Linked DNA regions of Homo sapiens: region 1 is linked to region 2. A link means that fine-mapping ties the variant in region 2 to the plasma level of a protein whose gene starts in the linked region. Region 2 holds a variant in brackets. A gene starts in the other region. All regions are shown on their reverse strands.

What was found. PIP is the chance, under the fine-mapping model, that this variant and not a neighbour inherited with it causes the effect. Protein levels are from antibody-based Olink assays in UK Biobank. Linkage for the fine-mapping came from a reference panel and not from the study's own genotypes, which makes the PIPs less certain.
Region 1: it holds the start of AGR3, and the variant in region 2 is fine-mapped to the plasma level of the AGR3 protein (UK Biobank, PIP above 0.99).

The regions. Positions count from the first base shown.
Region 1 is chr7:16,880,724-16,883,640 of GRCh38, reverse strand. AGR3 (anterior gradient 3, protein disulphide isomerase family member) reads left to right here and starts at 1,658. Exons shown (of 8, transcript NM_176813.5): 1 at 1,658-1,697.
Region 2 is chr19:51,138,072-51,140,988 of GRCh38, reverse strand. It overlaps LOC124904749 (a long non-coding RNA gene), which reads left to right and starts at 479. Exons shown (of 3, transcript XR_007067310.1): 1 at 479-565; 2 at 2,163-2,204. The variant C/A (reference allele first, on the strand shown) is at 1,462.

The DNA of each region.
Region 1 (2,917 bases), not on the chromosome of region 2:
CATATGCCCATCTTTATAGAACAAAATCCAACAGTCCTGCTTTTAAGAGATGTAGTTTAAGAATAATGGTTACCTTCTTAACATGGTCAACTCAGCCAAATCCAGCACTACATCTAAAGTTAAAATACTGGAAGCACACCCGCTTTAACATCAGGAGCAAGACAATCATCACTCCCATTCTTGCACAGTATATTTGTTAATGTATTCAGAGCAATTAGACCCTTCCCCACAAAAAAAAGAAACAAAAAAAGGGTGGGAGAAGGGAGGGATGGAGGGATGGAGGGATGGAGGAAGAGAGGAAGGGAGGAAGAGAGGAAGGGAGGAAGAGAGGAAGGGAGGAAGAGAGGAAGGGAGGGAGGGAGAGAGGAAGAAAGGAAGCAAAGGAAGAAAGGAAGGAAAGAAGGAAGGAAGGAATTTATAAACAATACCCTGGATTAAGGTTCAACAAACATTTTCTGTAAACATTTACTAAAGATAGTAAATATTTTAGGTTTTGCAGATCATACAGTCCCTGTCACAAGCACAGTTGACCCTTAAACAACATAGATTTGAATTGTGTGGGTTCACTTAGAGAAGGATTTTTTTTTAATATATTCCTTCATATGGGCAAGTTCTGTATCCACAACCAAAAGTGGATCAAAAATACTGTGTTCACGGGATGCCAAACCTGCATATGCGGAGGACCAACTTTTCATATCTGTGGGTTACGCAGGGCCAGATATGGGACTTTGAGTGTGCACAGATTTTGGTATCCACTGTCCTGGACTGTACCGGACTTTGCTGTTGCAGTGCAAAAGTAGCCATAGACACTAGTAAGCAAATGCACATGGCTGCATGCCATCCGCCACATCTCTCTCTACTTAAGGACACTGAAATTGAATTTCATATAACTTTCACATGTCACAAAATATGATTCTTTTGGGTTTTTTTCCCCAACCGTTTAAAAATGTCAAAACCGTTCCTGTTTCCTGGGCTGTACAAAAAACAGGTATGCCAAATTTGATGACACACTGCCTTACGTTATTTTAACAGTAATTAAATAATTACTCTCAATTAATTCAACAGTATCTAACTATTAGATAAATTTAAACTTATCTAATGGCCTGTTTTTCTAATTTTTTGTGCAGTAAAGGTTTTATAGAAAAATTGTAAAGAATAATCAAATTATGAAAATGTTCAACTTTAAAACAGAATTTTTATTTCCTTCTCTCTCAAAAAAAAAAGGACCCAATCTCTTTAGCTGTTAATTATATTCCTGTAAACAGAGTAACCCTTAGGAATTTCTATTTGAACAATGGCATGCACACAGTTCTTAAATTCATTCCGTTTTCTTTCTTCCTTTTCTTTTTTTTTTTTGTGCTGAACTTCAGCCAAACATTAAACTACCTTGGGAAATAAAAGGTAAAAGAGAAAGAAGCACAAAGATGGTATTTGACCTTATTTTATGAGGACATTCAATCTTAATTTAGAGAAAAAGAATAGAGCTTTTTTAGTGTGAGAAGCATGAGAACTGGAAAGAAGTACAGAGTTTTTCAGACCAGCCTATTTTTCTAAGTTTGTTTTCCGGTAACTATGCTCTTGTTTCTATGCAGGTGAGGTTGTAGGTCAGGTGTGTGTGTGTGTGTCTATAAATCCACACCCATTTTTAACCAGAAACATCCAGAATACATTTCCAACAAGAGCACTGGCCAAGTCAGGTAAGCAAGCAAATTTTCCAGATTACTTAATCAGTGGTCAAGCTTTGCTATATTTAAATAATCACCTTTTGCTATTTAAAAGTGAAGCTTTCAGTAAAGGGTAGGAAAGTGAAATGAATTTTTATTTTTCTTCTTTTACTGAACTGGATTTCCTTTGCTGGTTTCATAGTTTTATCTCTATTTATATTAATGGTATTAGAATAAATTGACGTCAACCACAAAAACGACTCTTTGAAAAGTATTCTACAAGTAATGATAGCTCTTCTTTATATTCTTTTAAGTCTTGTTTTATTTTAAAATATAGGAACTTATAATATCAGTTACTTACGTTAAATTACTTTTGAAAAATAAAATACTAATGTCATAAAATGCTAATTGACCAATGTTTATACAATCTAATTGCTGACATATGGTTATGTGCCTCCCAAATGCATTTTAAGCTGCTGTAGGCCTGTAACCATGCCACATTTATCTGTGTTCCCCCAAGTAGCTTAACCTTGCAACTGATACTAAAGGACCCTCAGCAGTTTACACTATATTTTACCAAGGAAAGCGTTATTTATTCAAAATCTACAGTGTACAAGTTGTACTGCTTTGTCACAGAATATATTTAATATCTATTTTATAATTTATCAATGTAAAACCAGAAAACCAAGATTTTTATTTTTTAATTAGAAAGTATTTGACAATAATACATAAAGACTTGAAATTTTAAAGAAAAAATGGTTCCCGCTTAACTCTAAGCTTCGCAGCTTTAAAATAGCAAAAATGATGAGGTTATGCTTTTTCTTTTTTAAAATGCAGATTCCACCTGCTTGTCTCTGTAGCTAACATAGAAAAATCTTTCTAAAGATTCCTTCCAGATTGACTTTTCTTAACTCTTCTTTATATCCAAGATCCCTGGAAGAATTTTAATGACGTTTTGGACCCTATTCCCACGGAAAAGGAACAGAGGCAGATAAAATTTTGCACACAATTTCCAGGGGTTTTGAGCCTTCTGTAGCTCAGCCACAGGCCTTCTAGAAGCCTGCTGGATCCAGGTTAAGATCCTGTCCTAGGTGGTTGCTTTAGTTCCTCCACTGCAACTCCCAACCTGTCTAACTAAGGCTGCCTTCCCTGGGTTGAGCTTTGTGTTCCAGAGTCAACTGTCCCTGTCCTGTACTAAAATCCACCCTGTATTTGTTTCAGTCTTTAAAGTACAAGATGACCAAGGCCTTAAG
Region 2 (2,917 bases):
CCGCTCCCTCCTGAAGGAGCCCCTAGCCTCACTTTAATGATAATAGTCTTCCTGCTGTTCTATGTAGTTTTATCATCGGCACATGCTGCCTTGAAAATTCTAACTTCACGTAGGTTTTCCTGAAGATGTTGTATACATAGAAAATCCCAGTCTGTTTTCTTCCATACAACTGCATTGATCTGCTCAGCCCACACTGTCCCCTAATTGTCCATAACCTAGAGATCATTTGGCTGTAACGATTGAGAGAGGAAGATGCTGGGTTTGGGCGTCCGAAGCCACTCCCCGCCCTCACCTCCAATCCCTGCATTTGCAGCTAGTATCTCATCCTGCAGACCAATCTGCCTCCTGGGCGCCTCCTCCTTGCCCAGCCACTCTCTCCCCATAAGGATATTTGCAGTATCTCAGTGGGCAGAAGTGTTACCGGATGGTGCCATGCAGTTCCAGGCTCTTGGTGTCTTAAACAAAGAATTGGATGAGACACACACAGACAGCAAAGCAAGAAGCAGCAGTTTATTAAGCACAGTATCACACTCTTGGAGAGGGAGAGCGAACTGATCTCTATGAGGTGAGATCAGCATTACTTTGGGTCTTTTTATGTTTGTTTGTTTGTTTTTTTGTTTTTCTTCGCTTCCCAAGGCTGCCAAATCTCTATCCAGTGTCTGCCTTTTTTCGGGGGGAAGGGGTGGTGGTGAGGTGGGGACGAAGTCACCCAAGCTTGAGTGCAGTGGCACAATCTTGGCTCACTGCAACCTCAACCTTTTGGGTTGAAGCGATTCTTCTGCCTCTGCCTCCCTGGTAGCTGGGACTACAGGCGCCCGCCACCATGCCTGGCTAATTTTTGTATTTTTAGTAGAGATGGGGTTTCACCAGGTTGGCCAGGCTGGTCCTGAATTCCTGACCTCAAGTGATCCGCCCACCTTGGCCTCCCAAAGTGCTGGGATTACAGGCGTGAGCCACCGCGCCTGGCCAGTGCCTGCCTTTTTGATGGTTAAGTATGTTGCTTAGTTACTTTGACCCATCCCATAATTTTAAGTACATGGATAATATGCAGTCCATATGCATGAACTTTAATGAGCTGATTATCATACAGGGTCATGTTAAGGATACTTTTTCTCTCTAATGCACATGCATAGCTCTGAAGAACTGCCCCTTACTGGTTTGGTCCAGATCCTGCTGGCCACGGGTGTCCTTGCTCACTTCTCTATCTTACTTTTTGTTTTGGCTGCTCAACTTCTGCCTCTTGCTTCTTGCTCACCCGTCCCCTCACCTTGCTTCTGCTCTCTGCTTTTACTTATTCTGCCCTTTATCCAACTTTTAATTCTCTTTGCTATGCTCCTGCCCCATTGGTCTATGCTCCTCCTGCCTCAGAAGGGCTAGACCATGGCCCATCTCTTTCCCACAGTCCCCAGTTTGCAATTAAAATCAGAAAAAAAAATGGGAAGGAGAGACTTAAGGAAGCCA[C/A]AGAATCTGTAGAAAGGAGGAACTTGTGAACCACATATGACCCAGGGGAGCTGACAAGCCCTCTACTCCCACTTCCACAGTTCGGAGAGGAAGACATCAAGGTCCACAGTGACAAGTGCTATGGTCTGAATATGTCACCTCAAAATTCATTTGTTGAAATTTGAATCCCCATGTGATAGTATTAGAAGGTATAATGATTTGGGAGGCGATTAGGCTATGAGGACTCTGGGATTAGTCTAATGGGATTAGTCCCCTCATCTGAGAGACCCAGGGGAATTTGCACAGCCCTTCCACCACATGAGAACATAAGGAAAAGGCACCATCTATGAGGAAGCAAACTGTCTCCAGACACCAAACCTGCTGGCACCTTGGTCTTGGACTTCTCAGCCTCCAGAACTGTGAGAAATGAATTTCTGTTGTTTATAAACTGGCCAGTTTATGGTATTTTGTTGTAGCAGCATGAATGGACAGAGATAGAAAGCGAATTGCCCAAATCACACAGGTCTCCTGGGCCCTGTCTCCTGCACCAATGTCTGCCCAGGAGCCACTTAATTAATCTTGTCTGCCCAGGACAGACTGGGCTGGGACAGGGGAAGCTGATGTTACTTGGAGAGTGAAAGAACTGTCAAGTCTCTCACATGAGATAAGGAAAGACATTTCATTCATTCATTCATTCATTCATTCATTCGTTCTGTATTCAGATTGTGAGCACCCGTGCTGTGCCTTGAGATTTCCAGCAAAGGGTAAGTGTTTGCCCAATCGCTCCCTCCCAGGAGGGGAAGTTGCAGCATCTCAGTGGTCAGAAGGGCTGAGCCATGGCTGACAGTGATGTCCTGCATCTGTCCCGCAGGGCTGGGTGTCCTCATCTGAGTTCTGTCTTGAGCAGGAGGGGCTCAGTCAGGCCTCTCAGCCCTGCTCCCCTGGGGGCCTCCACACCTGTAGAGCCAACACCGGCCTCAGATTAGCATCGGCCACTTCAATTCTAACTCAGGCGGGACAGGACAGCTCAGCCCCATCTGGAACTCGGGGGCCAATCCCTCGGCTTCCCTAGAAAAGAGCAGCCCTGCTCACCTGGAGTAGTAGCCCCAGGTGAGGCCACGGGTGAAGGAAAAACCAGTGCCCATGAGCGCCCCTTGATTAGGTGAGAACCAGGGGCTGGGAGCCCTCCTGATCTTCACTCGCACATCTGCACCCAGAGGGACTTCCTGGGAGTGGGGAGAAGAGGGTGAGGTTTTGTTCCTAGGTCTAGGCCCCTCTCACAGCCCAACACCTGACCAGGCTGCCTGCCCCAGCACCCGTCCAGCAGCTCCCTCTGCACAGAGAGGCTCAGGGAAATGTGCTGGGAGCCCAGTGGGTGCTGAGCCTCACAGGTGAGGTCGCCTTCACCTCCAGTCCCTTTCTGGGGCAGCTCCAGGATCCCAGTTGCTGAGAGCTGGGAGAGATTCAGTGTTCTTCC